2 separate regions of the Homo sapiens genome follow, and region 1 is linked to region 2. Evidence: fine-mapped expression QTL. Tissue or cell type: unexposed skin. Region 2 holds a variant in brackets; the other region holds the start of a gene. All regions are shown on one strand. Distances are from middle to middle.

What was found. PIP is the estimated chance that this variant, and not a neighbour inherited with it, causes the effect.
Region 1: it holds the start of PAMR1, and the variant in region 2 is fine-mapped to the expression of PAMR1 in unexposed skin (GTEx, PIP 0.96).

What each region holds. Positions count from the first base shown.
Region 1 is chr11:35,520,744-35,528,743 of GRCh38, reverse strand. PAMR1 (peptidase domain containing associated with muscle regeneration 1) reads left to right here and starts at 3,128. Exons shown (of 11, transcript NM_001001991.3): 1 at 3,128-3,231. The coding sequence starts at 3,159.
Region 2 is chr11:36,142,947-36,151,208 of GRCh38, reverse strand. All of the region lies in intron 4 of LDLRAD3 (low density lipoprotein receptor class A domain containing 3), which reads right to left. Among named protein-coding and RNA genes, the nearest start is that of MIR3973, 140 kb to the right of the region's middle. RefSeq lists enhancers at 1,160-1,339, 1,219-1,792, 732-1,931, 6,947-7,554. The variant T/C (reference allele first, on the strand shown) is at 3,433.

The sequences.
Region 1 (8,000 bases), 620 kb after region 2:
AAAGACCTGGTACCAGGGACTTCCTTAGCAAATAGCCAAACAGGTTTGTTGGGAAGGAAAAATAATCTTTCTTCCCTACCCATCTTAGATTCCTTGGCTGTGGCCCTGTAAATTAGAATGACAAAAAAAAGAAAAAACAGATTAACAAGAGAAAAACAAACAAAAGTTTTTTATTAACTTGTGCATGGTGCTTACATGTTGAAATACCTAGTGAGGAGTAACTCAAAGAGATGGTTAGAATTTGGGTTCATATTGCATTTTTAAAAAGAACAATAAATTTGCAGAGAAGTGGCAAGACAAACAAAAAGGACTTTGAGCTTCTAGGGGTAGCAAATTATGGGAAGATAAATAAATGGGGGTCCTAATGGGAGATAAGACTAGTTAGTAAGTTTTGGTATGTAGATTCCTCTGGGCTGATAAGGGTCTAGGGTTGTCTCCAATGATTAACTTCTGTCCGTCCTGGTAGAGAGGGGAGGTGGAGACACTATACTTTTATAAATTCAAGTCTGCTTTTAGGAAAATGGGGGGAGAACAGAGACCTATTCTTGTATCTACTTCTTCTTAACTGCTTTCAGCTCAAAATAATCCTTATGCCAAAGGGGCATATTTGGGGGTGGTATAGACTGCTATCCTTCAGGTTCATCACTTAGAGCCCCATTCTGTCAGGGGGATGCAATTCATGTAGGGATGAGGCTGCTTGGTATTGACTCAGAGAGGTGTGTGTGGTGGGGGCTGGGAGGTGGGGAGAGGGAAGATGAAAAGAAACCCCACGTGTCATGGGAAGGACCAGGTGGAGATAGTTGAATCATGGGGACAGTTACCCCCATAAAAGTTTTCATTTTGTTCTCTAGATGTTGGTGGGCCCTGGTGGTTTAGGAGTAAGGTGTGCTGAGCTCGAAGCAAAGTCTTGGGAAGAGAAGTCACCCTGGACTATTGATGAAGGCCTGGAGTAAAGATTAAGAAATGGAAGTGGAAGGGAAAAGATAAGGGGAGAAACCTGAGGAAGGTAGAATCTGTAAAGCTCAGGTGCCGTCAGCTGGAGTTGAAACAGACTCCTGAGAGGCTCTTATGCCTACAGTTATTTGGGAACTAAGTCATCTTCTTCCCACTCCCATCACCAAAGGACCAGGACTGGTTGGCCAGCAACAAGGTGAACCTCCCTTCTTCGAACCTCTGCCCTCTACCTCTTAGGTATATGCTGCCCTCTGGTATTCTGCTCCTGTTTAAGGCTACTCTTGGTGCTTATTTTAACTGATTTCATCTCGATATGGAAGTTGAGTGTAGGAACAAGACTCATACCATGAGATGTTCTTGGGGGCAGTCTCAGGTCAGATAATAGAGATAATGATTAATATTTAGTGTGCACTTAATATGTGGTAGGCTCTGTGCTATGGGCCTTACATGCGTAATCTTATTAAATTCTTCCAGTGATCTACAAAGTAGGTTTGATTATTATTTCCATTTTATAGATGAGAAGACTGAGATTCAGAGAGTTAACTTGCTTAAGGTCACACAGCCAGAAAGTGGTGAATCAACAAAATTAGAACACAGGCCTGCTGAGTTCTTGCTTCCAGTCACTTCACTGCAATAGGCCCCCAGAAGCAGGGCTGGAGTTCAGAAATTCTTTCTAGTAGAGCACCTGTGTCAGGGCTCCTGACCTTCTGATCTGTCCTGAGCTTTACAGATTCTACCTTCCTCAGGTTTCTCCCCTTATCTTTTCCCTTCCACTTCCATTTCTTAATCCTTACTCCAGGCCTTCATCAATAGTCCAGGGTGACTTCTCTTCCCGAGACTTTGCTTTGAGCTCAGCACACCCTACTTGTAAACCACCAGGGCCCGCCAACATCTAGAGAACAAAATTAAAACTTTTATGGGGGTAACTGTCCCCATGATTCAATTATCTCCACCTGGTCCCTCCCATGACACGTGGGGTTTATGGGAACCACAATTCAAGATGAGGTTTGGGTGGGGACACAGCGAAGCCATATCAAATGGTGAAATACAATTCTGCATATGTAGCATCCTAAGAAGCTCTATAGCCTAGTGGCTAAGACTATAGCCTGTGGGCCTAAGCTGCCCGGGTTCAAACCCTGGCTCTGCCCCTCACTAACTGTGTGGCCTTGGATGAGTTATTGTAATCCTCAATGGTTCCGTTTCTCTAATTGTAAAATACAGAGGCTAGGTTTATTGTGAGGAATAATTGAGTTAATACATGTAAGGTACATGACACCTGGCACGGAGGAGTTTATTTTAAAAAGTCACCTATTATGAAACATCCTTCTTCCTCATTTCGAGATGTCACTTGCTATCTTGTACCTAAACTGAGCCCTTTTGGTGGAGGCAGTGAGGGTTCTTGTGTGTTCTTCGCCATCCCTGCCTGGCGTGTGCGCAGGAGCTATTTATGTTGCTGAATTCACCATCGTGGGGATCACAGGAAGAGGAAAACTTTTTCCAGTAGCTCAGGAGCTGCTTATGTCGCTGAATTCACCATGACGGGGATCATAGGAAGAGGAAAACTTTTTCCAGTAGCCTGTAGTTGCAAAAGATAATAAGCTTTCCAACCTGTGATCACCTGGAGCAAACGGAGAGGAAAGGAGATAAACGAGGAGTGTTGCGTGCGGAGTGGAGGGAGGCTCCCTTTCTCCTCCCATCACCAACTCCTCCTTCTCCTCAGGCCAGGCTTTTAATCAGGCTCCCCGCGTGCAGTCAGAGAGGGCAAAGCCAGCTCCCGTCTCAGCCTCCCGTAGGAAGATCTCCCGGCCTCACCTGAGCGCCCCGCAGCCCTGGGTACCTCTGCTCCCGCCCAGGGTCCTATGGCCCCTCCTCCCAGCACCCAACACTGGGACCCCACCTGTACCCAGGCTGGCCTCCCTCCCCCGCAGCTTCCTTTGCAGCCGCCGTCCGCGGGTCTCCAGGCGTGGCCACACCTCCCGGGGCCCCGCAAGGGTTAAGGCAGCAGAGAGGAGAGGTTTGGGCTGACGTCGCTCTGGCTGAAGGTGGTTCCCCTCAGATGAGGATGGGAGAGCCTGGCGAGCTGAAACCCGAGCTCCCGCTCAGCTGGGGCTCGGGGAGGTCCCTGTAAAACCCGCCTGCCCCCGGCCTCCCTGGGTCCCTCCTCTCCCTCCCCAGTAGACGCTCGGGCACCAGCCGCGGCAAGGATGGAGCTGGGTTGCTGGACGCAGTTGGGGCTCACTTTTCTTCAGCTCCTTCTCATCTCGTCCTTGCCAAGAGGTACTGTGAGTAGCGTCCGGGACACCCTAGGAGGACACCCTAGGAGGGAGCATTTTCCTCCTGGGGTCTGCCTGGGAGCAGGACTGGGAGTCTCAGGAGGTGGGCTGTGTGTGTTTGGGGTGAGGGGTTGAGGGGGGGTGGTGCTTTTCCAGTGATAATTTTAGGGACTTGGCTGGTGGTGCTGGAGCTCCTGTGGCCCTCCCTGAGACTGTGACGTGGTTTTGTCATCCCAAATCGTGGGGCTGTACTGTCTCAGGAAAGCGGACCAGCTCCTATTTTATTTGCTCTTTTTATCATTTTAAAAGTACCAAATTGCCTTAGGGAATCAATTCTGAGTTACCCGCTCTGACTTGCAAAAGCGAAGTTTCTCTTGGAAAGGGCTCCCTCAGAGGTGAGCAAGAAAGAAAGAAGAGAGGGAAAGAAAGAAAGGAATAAAGAGCAGGGCTTGCTTGGTGTTCTTCTGGTGAATCTTGCTTCACGAACTCCTACAGCCATACCCCTTCGGAGTAGATCCAAGCACAGGAGATTGACTCACTCAGCATATATAGACACACTTCCTTTCTGATGAGAGTGAGAAAGAAGAAAAAGCCAAGGTTAAAAGTGCAGATTGTTTCTGGGATGCATAGGGTTTGTTTTGAAAGAGCTCTGGCTTCTTTGGTTTTCATATATCATTTTCTAAGCCACAATCCCCAGGTCAAATGGGCTTCTGGGGACAAATGAGGCTGGGACATGATACGGAGATCCAGCTAAGGGCAGAAGCGAGGACATGGCAGATCCTGCTTGCTGGCAGGCGGGGAAGTGGGAACGTCATAGGAACATCTGTCCTTCTATGGCCCAGGGGGTAAAGTGAGACCTCATGAGATGAGGGCAGGCCGAGATGTACAGAAATGACCAAACGGGGCAGCTCTGAATAGGGGCAGGTTATGTACGAGCCTTCGCTGCTTCCCTTCTGTGCTGGTTACCTGTCACCTGAACTCTATCTGAGAGCTGGGTGCTCTGCCGCTGCAAGTAGCTGGCAAGTGCCTGAGAATGAAACAGGCCAGGTCGGGTGGGGAGGATACTAAATGCAATAACCTGTGTAGAAGGGAAACTTAGCCATAGGCACATCCCTTCATGATCAACGAAAAGCTGAGATACACAAACCCCCCTGCCCTTCATTTTGGTCAATACTTTCCATCTACCTAGAGCCTGCCTGCCCAGGTAGGATCTTCCTTAATGATTTACAATAAAGATGGTGAGTGTTTCATTTGAATTTTGCCTCCATGGTGTCTGGAGCAGCCCAAAGACAATAATAAAGGAAGAAGGAGCCCTTCATAAGGGCTGACAATCCATAAACCTAAACACTTGCCTAGGGGTAAGTGGGTGACTTTGCATTAAGGCACCTCCCTACTTCATCTTCGCCTTTGCATGGTGTCGGTGGACCAGCTCCAGAGGACCTGGTTCTTCTCAGAGTGCCAGGGCTCAGTGGATTTGATTCCTCAGGGTTACATCAGCGTTCCCCTGCTTCCTGTTTTATTACATGGCAGGTGAGGCGCTTCAAAGCCATAAAAGTTTAAAAGAAAATAAAAAAACCTGAGCTGGCTCTTTTTCCTAGCCCAGAATCTGAAAAATCCATTTATTTCTGACCCGAGAACCTCTTTTACCTTTGGCTGTGAAAAAGCTTCAGAGAGGATACGCAGTTTGTTGGTAGCTAAACTGCTGCCTGAACCAGAGCGCAGCTTCATGTGTTTAGCAAGGATATTTTAGTTGTTGAATGTTTTACTCACATTTCGAGGGAAGACGGAGGAATAGCGTGGAGAAGGAAAATATTTCCTCAAGGAGTGAAGGAAGTCCACTCCCTGCTGGGATGCTGAATCTGGCCCCAGGCAAGAAAAGCTTGGAAGCGTATTTCCTCTAATTAACTTTTCTAAAAAGAGTATTTGCTGAATTGTAAACATCCACTGGGATGGTACCAGAGAGTGTTGTTTCTCACTGGCATGTGACACATGTTGGGAGGATGAGAATCCAAACATGAGGCCAAGCGATAACCCAACATAAACAGAATGAGGGGAGAAACCCAACTCCACTGACTTCACCAAATTGCGGTAGCTCTGCCAGTGTGATTCTGCCGAAGAGGAAAACCTCATTTAAAATATGGGACTCTTGGGAATGAAAACTTAATCTGGAGAACTTCACAAGTGTTGCTTCCAACAGACATTAACTTGTGGGGAATGAACATAAATGCAACCAGGGAAGATAATTTGAAGTGCAGATATTCAGTGGGCAGGAAAAGCCAGCCGAGAAAGGAAACATGGAAAGAAAGCAAGGGAGAAGGAGTGGCAAGAAAAATGAGATGTGAGATTACACTGGGATATGTTGGCAAATTCCTAGGAGAAAGCTAGGAAAATTGGGCCTTCTTGGCACGGGTGGATTTTTGCGGGGATCATGAAGAGGGTGTTCCCCTAATATACAATCTGAGAGCTCCTGGCATCCCCAACAGGAAAATAATTTAATGATGGGATCATGGAGTTTAGGAGCTGAGAGTGACTTTAGAAATTATTTTAGTATGAGTCCCTCAATTCAGAGGATGAAGAGATTAAACATCAAGCAAACATTTAGTGAACATTTATTAATGTGTCCAGTCTTTGAGCCAAAGGCTTCATATGCATTAATTCTCAGACCACCCTGAAATGGCATTGCTGTTATTATCCGTGTTTTACAGATGAGGTTCAGAGAGGTTCTATGATACACAGAGGTTTAAGGATATACAAGTATGGTTCCCCCAAAAATTGAACATAGAATTACCATTTGATTTAGCAATTCAATTTCTGGGTGTATACACAAAAGAATTGAAAGCAGGGACTTGATTAGATATGTTTACATCAATGTTCATAGCAGCATTATTCCCAATAGCCAAAAGGTGGAAACAACCCGAATGTCCATTGATAAACAAGATACAGTATACACCTACGACGGAATATTATTCAGCCTTAAAAATAAAGGATATTCTGATACGTGCTATAACACAGATGAACCTTAAGACCTTATGCTAAGTGAAAGAAGCCAGACACAAAAAGACAAATGTTCTGTGATGCCACTTATATGAGGTACTTAGAATAGTCAAATTCATGTAGACAGAAAGTAGGGTGGTAATTGCCAGGGCCCAGGAGAAGATGGAATGGGAGTTATTATTTGATGGGTACAGAGTTTCAATGTGGAATAGCAAAAAGTTCTGGAGATAGATGGTGGTGATGGTTGCACAATAGTATGAATGTACTTATGCCACTGAACCATGCACTTAAAAACGATTTGAGGCAGGCGCAGTGGCTCATGCCTATAATCCCAGCACTTTGGGAGGCCAGGGCGGGCAGATCACGAGGTCAGGAGATCGAGGCCATCCTGGCTAACACAGTGAAACCCTGTCTCTACTAAAAATACAAAAAATTAGCTGGGCGTGGTGGCAGGCGCCTGTAGTCCCAGCTACTCGGGAGGCTGAGGCAGGAGAATGGTGTGAACCTGGGAGGTGGAGCTTGCAGGGAGCCAAGATCGCGCCACTGCACTCCAGCTTGGGCGACAGAGTGAGACTCTGTCTCCAAAACAAAACAAAACAAAAAAAAACCAAACAAAAAACGATTTGAAAGGTAATTTTTTGTTATGTATATATTTTCCACAATAAATAAATAAACAACTACACTGGCAGAGTAGTGGAGCCCAGGGTGAGCTCAGGCTGTCTAGTTTCTGAACCCAAGTTCCTCCGTTACCTGGAGGACATATATTCACACATCCAGCACATGGACTGATTATGCTGATGGACATCTAACTTTGTTAGGGTTTCAGGATGCACATGAAGCAGGGGAAAGAGAGCCCTTGCTAGCTCCTGTTTTACTGGCATTGTTGCTGCTTCTTGGCTGGTTGTGGCAAAGAGGGAGACTGTGCTGATAGACCAGAAACTGGCAGCCTTTGGAGCCAAAAGGCCTGCAGAATTTATTTAGTAGGACACAAGTGCTTCAGAGTGTTTTGAACCTGAATGTCTTGAGGTAGGCTGGATCCTCTCTAGGGTCTGACACTCCACCTCTCAACCCATATGTTTAATACCTGCTAATCCTTACTAGCATTTGAAGTTTTGACCTCCATTTCTGAGAGGGATGGGACAGGAAGGGGGAATGAGAGGGAGAAGGTGGAAGGCTGGATGGTGAATGGAGGGAAACAAGGGAGTTCAGCTGCTGAGGACTAATTGGCCAACAGGATTTTTCAGAGCATCTGGTACATCAGACTTTTATCAGTGTCTAACATATTTTAATCTGTATATTTCATGGAGCATAATCTTACCTCTCTCTGTGACCTCCAACTCTTTAGTAAAATGTTTTACTTTCATGAATGCCCTTGAGCATAAGCTTTCAGTGGAAACTGAAGACAGGGCTGGGTGTTATATCTGGGTCAATAACCTGTGAACAAAGCACCTTAGACATGGGAGCCCAGAAGCAGAGGTGACCTAGAGCGCGTAAGTCCCTCAGGAATATGCAGAAGTCTTGGGGAGGGCTTTAGAATGCCATTGGCATGGACAATGGATTTGACTTAATCTTATCCACATCTGGGTTATACTGGCTAGACAGAAATGGCCAACATAATGGTGCCTGGGACCTAATGACAGGTCTTAGATCTGAAAATTATTTCCATCTGCCCCACTGGGGTGGCCAATCCTGATGCAAAAGAAAACTTCTCTACCTGCCTCCCCTGAGACCAGCTCTAGAAGCTGCAGTTGATTTGGGGTGTAAGCAAATGGGGAAAAG
Region 2 (8,262 bases):
CAGGTCATTCCCAGATATGAGCATGATTCACTGAAACAGCACCATGTGAATTACAATTTGAACAACTGGAAACCTCTGGCCTGGCTAGACTGGTGAGGGCGTTCTAGACAGACAGAAAAGTGTGCCTGAAAGGTGGGAAACCAAGGATTGTTCAGAGGTGCCTATGGGTGCATGTGGTGAACAGATCAGACCTCGGAGAACTTTCCATGTCCAGTAAGAGATTCAGCTTTATGCTACTGGCAATGAGGGGCTATTGTGTGTTTGAACACAGACAGCAAGACAAGCAGGACTGGGCTTTCAGTGACAAGGACTGGAGGTCAGGAAGGCTCATTAGAAAGCTACTGCAAAAGCAGGAGGTAGAGAGAAGGCCAGAATTTGGGCATGGGCATTCAGCTTCAACAAGGGATCTTTCTTTCTTTCTTTCCTTTTTAATTTTTTATTTATTTATTTTTTTGAAACAGAGTCTTGCTCTGTTGCCCAGGCTGGAGTGCAGTGGCTCAATCTTGGCTCACGGCAACCTCTGCCTCCTGGGTTCACACCATTCTCCTGCCTCAGCCTCCCAAGTAGCTGGGACTACAGGCGCCCGCCACCACGCCCGGCTAATTTTTTTTGTATTTTTAGTAGAGATGGGGTTTCACTGTGTTAGCCAGGATGGTCTTGCCTTTTTTATTTTTTTTTAAAGAGACAAGGTCTCGCTCTACCACCCACGCTGGAGTGCACTGGTACAATTATAACACACGGCAGCCTGGGACTCCTGGGTGCAAGTGATCCTCCCACCTCAGCCTCCTGGGTAGCTGGGACTACAGGCGTGTGGTACCACGCCTGGCTAATTTTTAATTTTTTTGTAGAGATGAGGTCTCACTTTGTTGCCCTGGCTGTTCTCAAACTCCTGGCCCCAAGTGATCCTGCTGCCTCAGCCTCCCAAAGTGTTGAGATTACACGTGTGAGCCACTGTGCCTGCCTTCAACAGGGAATCTTTAAAGAGTAATATTCATGCCTCATTTATGGAACAAATATTGTTCTCAGTTCTCAGATACCGGTGTCCAAGACAGACACAGCCACTAGGAGGCAACATTGTTCTTCCCTAGAGATGGGACACCACACAGTCCCCAGGTAAACGATACCCCCTGCAGCCTGGTGGATAGTTCAAGAAAGCTGTTTTGGGGAATGAAAAAGGACACCCCACCTTCCACCTCATCCTACCACACTCCCTATTCCACCGTTCACGCCTGCCCTGGCCTGGTGAATGCCAAAGCAATGCTGTAAGAGAGACCCAGGGCTTTAGCCCTCAATTCAGCCACATTCATGAGTCATGAGTCATGAGGAACATGAGTCATGAGGAACAGTCATGAGGAACACATTCATGAGTCATGAGGAACAGACGCAGAGCCTCAATGGGGCCCCAAGTCAGCAAGGGATGCACCTGCCCCAGCACTTCTGGAAGCTCTGGCACTGTGTTCAGTGCCCTCATACCCTGGTCACCAAGCCCCAGGAGATGGTTTTCTACCCAATTACCAACTGAGACAAACGTGGCAGGACACTACAGCGCTGGGAGCCACAGACCCTGGCCACCAGCCCAGAAGCAGACTCACAGCTCTGACATTTTCAACAGGTAGATAGGAGCAGCGAACAGATTCAAACTCCCTCTCATCCTCATCTCTCACCAGCTGGACAACACTGCTGTGCAGGGACAGCGTCTCAGACACAGACGGTGCTTCTTGAATCATTTGTCTTTCTGGGGCCTTCCAAGTTGGGTTATTTTGTCCTATCCTTTCTAGCGACTGCATACTGATACTTTCTTTCCCCTTTTTCTCTTGCTTCCTGCCAACTTAACTTTATCCAGGATGGTCTTTGCATTTGTTGTGCCCACAACTCTCCAACCGCTATTCTTTTGTAGATTTTATCTGACAGATTTCATTTTACCTTCTGCACAGGCATCTGACCATCCCCTGACGTCTGATGTCTTCTCCCCTCCCAGGCCTGAGTGCCTGATCATTCCCTCAAGAATCTTGCAGAAAGGCCATCTTCCCTGGCTACTCCCAAATGGAGTTCAAAGCTCCCCTTTTCTGCTACCTTGGTACTCAACAGAACTCATCATGTGGGCATGAGTCTGTCCCTCTTCTTAGATAAGGAGTTTCCAGACGCTGTGGCCAGGTGTTCTCTCTTTATCATCCCAGTGTGCGACATGGGGCCTGGTTCATCATACGTATCAACACAGTTGGCTAAATGGATGGATGCACAAGGTAGACTGAATGAAGGACCATTTCACTAACTTCATTTGTCTCTCCTAGAGCAGCTGCCACCACCATCTGTTACAAAACCTTCAAACTGAAATGTTACTTCAATTCCTTTCCAACACTTTCTGCCTACCCAAGCCAGGGGATGCCTCCTTCACAGAGCTGGTCATCTGTGGGTAGCAGAAGACAAGTGAATGCACCATGTCCCTCAGACCTTTGAAGATATAGCTTGGGAGTCTTGCTGGGGTAAAGTGGTCCTGGCTCCATTCCCTGGCTGCTTCATGTTCCCAAGGGTCATACAAAGACCCAGAGTCTGAGACTGCAGAAAACCCCAAGACGGCCCTATCTCCTTCTCCTTGGCTGTCACTCAGATTCCCACCCAAACCTCCTCCAACTCCATGACTCTAAACACAGGATAGACTGAAGCATTCCCTTCTAGTTCTACTGGTAAATATAACTGTCAGAAGATTTTTCCAAAAGCAGGCAGTGAGAGAAAAATCATAAAGGCAGCAAAGTCCTCGTTAGGGAATAGAAAAGTTGGATTTGCCACCAAATGAACCGAGATGCCCCTACAGTCACCCCAGAAAATACACCCTGAGTGTATCGAGATAGTCATCTGAGCACTCGCAGATGTCTCCTTCCCGCTTCCAGATCCCTAAAGTGACAGGGCAGGGGTTAAAACACAAAGATCACAGGGTTGAGAACCAAGGAGAGGACCATCACTGGGCTCCTTTTCTAAAATCCCTATGCTAGATATATAACATTTATTTAATAAGAAAAACAGAAACAATGAAAACAATCTGGCCAGGTGTGGTGGCTCACGCCTGTAATCCCAGCATTTTGGGAGGCCGAGGTGGGCAGATCACTGAGGTCAGGAGTTCAAGACCAGCCTGGCCAACATGGTGAAACCCCGTCTCTACTAACAATACAACCATTAGCCGAGGCTGGTGGTGGGTGCCTATAATCTCAGCTACTCGCAAGGCTGAGGCAGGAGAATCGCTTAAACCTGGGAGGTGGAGGTTGCAGTGAGCCAGGATTGCACCACTGCACTCCAGCCTGGGCAACACAGTGAAACTCTGTCTCAAAAGAAATAAAAATAAAAATAAAAAACAACTAATGGAAAAAAGGAAAAGAAATAAAGGCCCAGGCAATAAAGACTCAAGCTGGTGGCTCACCCTTGTAATACCACAGGGCA[T/C]ATGCAAAGTCAGGTATTGCTTTGCAGTGATGTAAGAGGTCAGAATCACAGGAGTCTGGCAACTGCAGTGTCAGATACATCATACCACAGCCCCATGAGGAGATATTCTGAAACACTGATTGTTTTAGGAATTGTTAATAACTTGAGAATGTGTACATGATACTATGTGTAGGGGGTTGAACTGTGTCCCTCAAAAGTTATGTCCATGTTCTAACCCCTGGTGCCTGTGAATATGACTTTATTTGGAAAACGGGGTCTCTGCAGATGTAATTGAGTTAAGGAACTTTAGATGAGATCATCTTGCATTTAGACTTGACCCTAAGTCAAATGACTGGTGTCCTTTTAAAAGTAAATAGAGGGGCCGGGTGTGGTGGCTCATGCCTGTAATCCCAGCACTTTGGGAGGCCGAGGCGGGTGGATCACAAAGTCAGGAGATTGAGACCATCCTGGCTAACATGGTGAAACCCTGTCTCTACTAAAAATACAAAAAAATTAGCTGGGTGTGGTGGTGGGTGCCTGTAGTCCTAGCTACTCGGGAGGCTGAGGCAGGAGAATGGCATGAACCAGGGAGGCGGAGCTTGCAGTGAGCCGAGATCATGCCACTGCACTCCAGCCTGGATGACAGAGCAAGACTCCGTCTCAAAAAAAAAAAAAAAAAAAAAAAAAAAAAAAAAAAAAGTAAATATGGGGGCCAGTCATGGTGGCTAACGCCTGTAATCCAGCACTTTGGGGGCCAAGGTGGGTGGGTCACTCGAGGTTAGGAGTTGGAGACCAGCCTGACTAACACGGTGAAACCCTGTCTCTACTAAAAATACAAAAATTAGCTGCATGTGGCAGTATGCATCTGTAGTCTCAGCTATTCAGGAGGCTGAGGAGAGAGAATCACTTGAAGCTGGGAGGCGGAGGTTGCAGTGAGCCAAAACCACGCCACTGTACTCCAGCCTGGGTGACAAAGCAAGATTCCATCTCAATCAATCAATAAAATAAAATAAAATAAAATAAAGTAGAGGGAAATTTGGGACACAGAGACAAGAAATCTTGGGACTCCGGGGAGAATGCCAGGTGAAGACGGAAGCAGAGATTGCAGGGATGCGTCTACAAGCCAAGAAATGCCAAGGATTGCTGGAAGCTGCCAGAACCTAGGAGAAAGGTATGCAGTGAATTTTCCCTCAGGGTCCGCAGAAGGAACAAACCCTGCTGATGCCTTGATTTGGACTTCTCTTCTGAACTGTACGAGAATAACTGTCTGTTTTTTTAAGCCACCAAATCTGTAGTAATTTATGCAGCCTGAGGAAACCAATATACAATATACTATGATATGTAGAAGCAGCTTATATAGCTCTTTACAGGATAATCTCAATTATATGGTATGAAAAGGATGGACAATGGGTGTATATTACTCCTATAAAGAGAGAAAAGGTTATGAGAAACATACAAAAAGTTTGCCATCTCTTATCACTGATGGATTATCTAAAAGCAAAGCCTTGCTGCCATGTAGCAGTTCTTACTTTCATCGGACATTTGATATTCAAAATAATCCAGGGAGGTAAGTGCACAGGGTGACATTATTCTGATTTTATGGGTGACAACTTGAGTTGGAGTGTGATCAGGAGGCTGAGCAGTGACTGAGTCTGAATAAGAATTTAGGTCTTGGTGCTTCTCACCAGCACCCATTCATTTGGCTATTTACCTGGTGTTATGGGCTGAATTTTGTTCTCTCCTAAATTCCTGTGTTGAAGTCCTAACCTCCAACACTTTTTTTTTTCTTTTTTTTATTGATCATTCTTGGGTGTTTCTCGCAGAGGGAGATTTAGCAGGGTCACAGGACAATAGTGGAGGGAAGGTCAGCAGATAAACAAGTGAACAAAGGTCTCTGGTTTTCCTAGGCAGAGGACCCTGCAGCCTTCCGCAGTGTTTGTGTCCCTGGGTACTTGAGATTAGGGAGTGGCGATGACTCTTAACCAGCATGCTGCCTTCAAGCATCTGTTTAACAAAGCACATCTTGCACCACCCTTAATCCATTCAACCCTGAGTGGACACAGCACATGTTTCAGAGAGCACAGGGTTGGGGGTAAGGTCACAGATTAACAGGATCCCAAGGCAGAAGAATTTTTCTTAGTACAGAACAAAATGAAAAGTCTCCCATGTCTACCTCTTTCTACACAGACACGGCAACCATCCGATTTCTCAATCTTTTCCCCACTTTTCCCCCCTTTCTATTCCACAAAACCGCCATTGTCATCATGGCCTGTTCTCAATGAGCTGTTGAGTACACCTCCCAGACGGGGTGGTGGCCGGGCAGAGAGGCTCCTCACTTCCCAGTAGGGGCGGCCGGGCAGAGGCGCCCCTCACCTCCCGGATGGGGTGGCTGGCTGGGCGGGGGGCTGACCCCCCCACCTCCCTCCCAGACGGGGCGGCTGGCCGGGCAGAGGGGCTCCTCACTTCCCAGTAGGGGTGGCCGGGCAGAGGCACCCCTCACCTCCCGGATGGGGCAGCTGGCCGGGCGGGGGGCTGACCCCCCCCCACTTCCCTCCCGGACGGGGCGGCTGGCGGGTGGGGGGCTGACCCCCCCACCTCCCTCCCGGACGGGGCAGCTGGCCGGGCGGGGGGCTGACCCCCCCACCTCCCTCCCAGATGGGGCAGCTGGCCGGGCGGGGGGCTGACCCCCCAACCTCCCTCCCGGACGGGGCGGCTGGCCGGGCAGAGGGGCTCCTCTCTTCCCAGTAGAGGCGGCCGGGCAGAGGCGCCCCTCACCTCCCGGACGGGGCGGCTGGCAGGGCGGGGGGCTGACCCCCCCACCTCCTTCCGGGACGGGGCGGCTGGCCGGGCAGAGGGGCTCCTCACTTCCCAGTAGGGGCGGCCGGGTAGAGGCGCCCCTCACCTCCCGGACGGGGCGGCTGGCCGGGCGGGGGGCTGACCCCCCCACCTCCCTCCCGGACGGGCGGCTGGCCGGGCGGGGGGCTGACCCCCCCACCTCCCTCCCGGACGGGGCGGCTGGCCGGGCGGGGGGCTGACCCCCACCTCCCTCCCGGACGGGGTGGCTGCCGGGCGGAGACGCTCCTCACTTCCCAGACGGGGTGGCTGCCGGGCGGAGGGGCTCCTCACTTCTCAGACGGTGTGGCTGCCGGGCGGAGGGGCTTCTCACTTCTCAGACGGGGCAGTTGCCAGGCAGAGGGTCTCCTCACTTCTCAGACGGGGCGGCCGGGCAGAGACGCTCCTCACATCCCAGACGGGGCGGCAGGGCAGAGGCGCTCCCCACATCTCAGACGATGGGCGGCCAGGCAGAGACGCTCCTCACTTCCTAGATGGGATGGCGGCCGGGCAGAGACACTCCTCACTTTCCAGACTGGGCAGCCAGGCAGAGAGGCTCCTCACATCCCAGATGATGGGCGGCCAGGCAGAGACACTCCTCACTTCCCAGACGGGGTGGCGGCCGGGCAGAGGCTGCAATCTCGGCACTTTGGGGGGCCAAGGCAGGCAGCTGGGAGGTGGAGGTTGTAGCGAGCCGAGATCACGCCACTGCACTCCAGCCTGGGCACCATTGAGCACTGAGTGAACGCAACTCTGTCTGCCATCCCGGCACCTCGGGAGGCCGAGGCTGGCGGATCACTCGCGGTTAGGAGCTGGAGACCAGCCCAGCCAACACAGCGAAACCCCGTCTCCACCAAAAAAATACGAAAACCAGTCAGGCGTGGTGGCGCGCGCCTGCAATCGCAGGCACTTGGCAGGCTGAGGCAGGAGAATCAGGCAGGGAGGTTGCAGTGAGCCGAGATGGCAGCAGTACAGTCCAGCTTCGGCTCGGCATCAGAGGGAGACCGTGGCAAGAGAGGGAGGGGGAGGGGGAGGGGGAGGGGGAGAGGGAGAGGGAGAGGGAGCCTCCAACACTTTAGAATGCGACTGCATTTGGAGGCAAGGTCTTTCGAGAAGTGATTAAGCTAAAATGAGGTTTTTGTTTTGTTTTGTTTGTAGGGTGGGCTCTAATCTAATGTGAAGACATAGCAAGGAGATGCCATCTACAAGCCAAAAAAAAGGGGTGCTGGGAGAAACCAGACCTGCTGACACCTTGTGCTTGGACTTCCGGCCTCCAGAACAGTGAGCAGATGCATTTCCGTTATTTAAGCCACCCAGTCTGTGGTATTTTGTTAGCAGCCACAGCCAACTAATACACTTAGGAAGGCTGGAACACACAGTCTCCATACCTGTTTCTCTTTTTCCTGTGGCATTCTCCCTGGGCTCAAACAGGAAGTGGGAAAATACATAATTTCCAGGTACAGGATCCTCCTGCCCAATGAGGTTATTTCTGAGCTAACAACAGCCAAGACTTTTGGCAAGTCTATTTTTGGAAGAAGGTCCGCCCTGAACCGTGGAGAAAGAGAGTGGTCAAAGCCACATTCACCTGATGTGCCAGCTTCTTCTGGTTTCTCATTCAAGGCCACCACGGGAAAGAGGTAGAGGACGCCAGGCCTTGGGTTTCCTTTCTGGCCAGGGAGTTCTTTGTGACTTTTAAGCAGGGGAAGCAAGGCTGCCGGAGACAGCGCGTTGTGCCTGGGGAACAGGTTCACAGGCTCACAGACAGAATTGGGTTCAGATGCTGGTTCTGATCACTCCTAGGTGACCCCAGGCAAAATGCTTTCCCAGACTGAGACTCAATGTCCTCATCTGTAAAGTGAAGTTAACCCCACCCGCCTCACTGGTGAATATGCATCTGCAATGTTAAGCACTTAGCATAGTGCCTACCACATAGTACGTGTTTAATCAATGTTTGTTATGTATATTAATGAAAAGGTTCACCAATTTGGCTCCTTTTTCAAATGTACCTAAATCCCATTG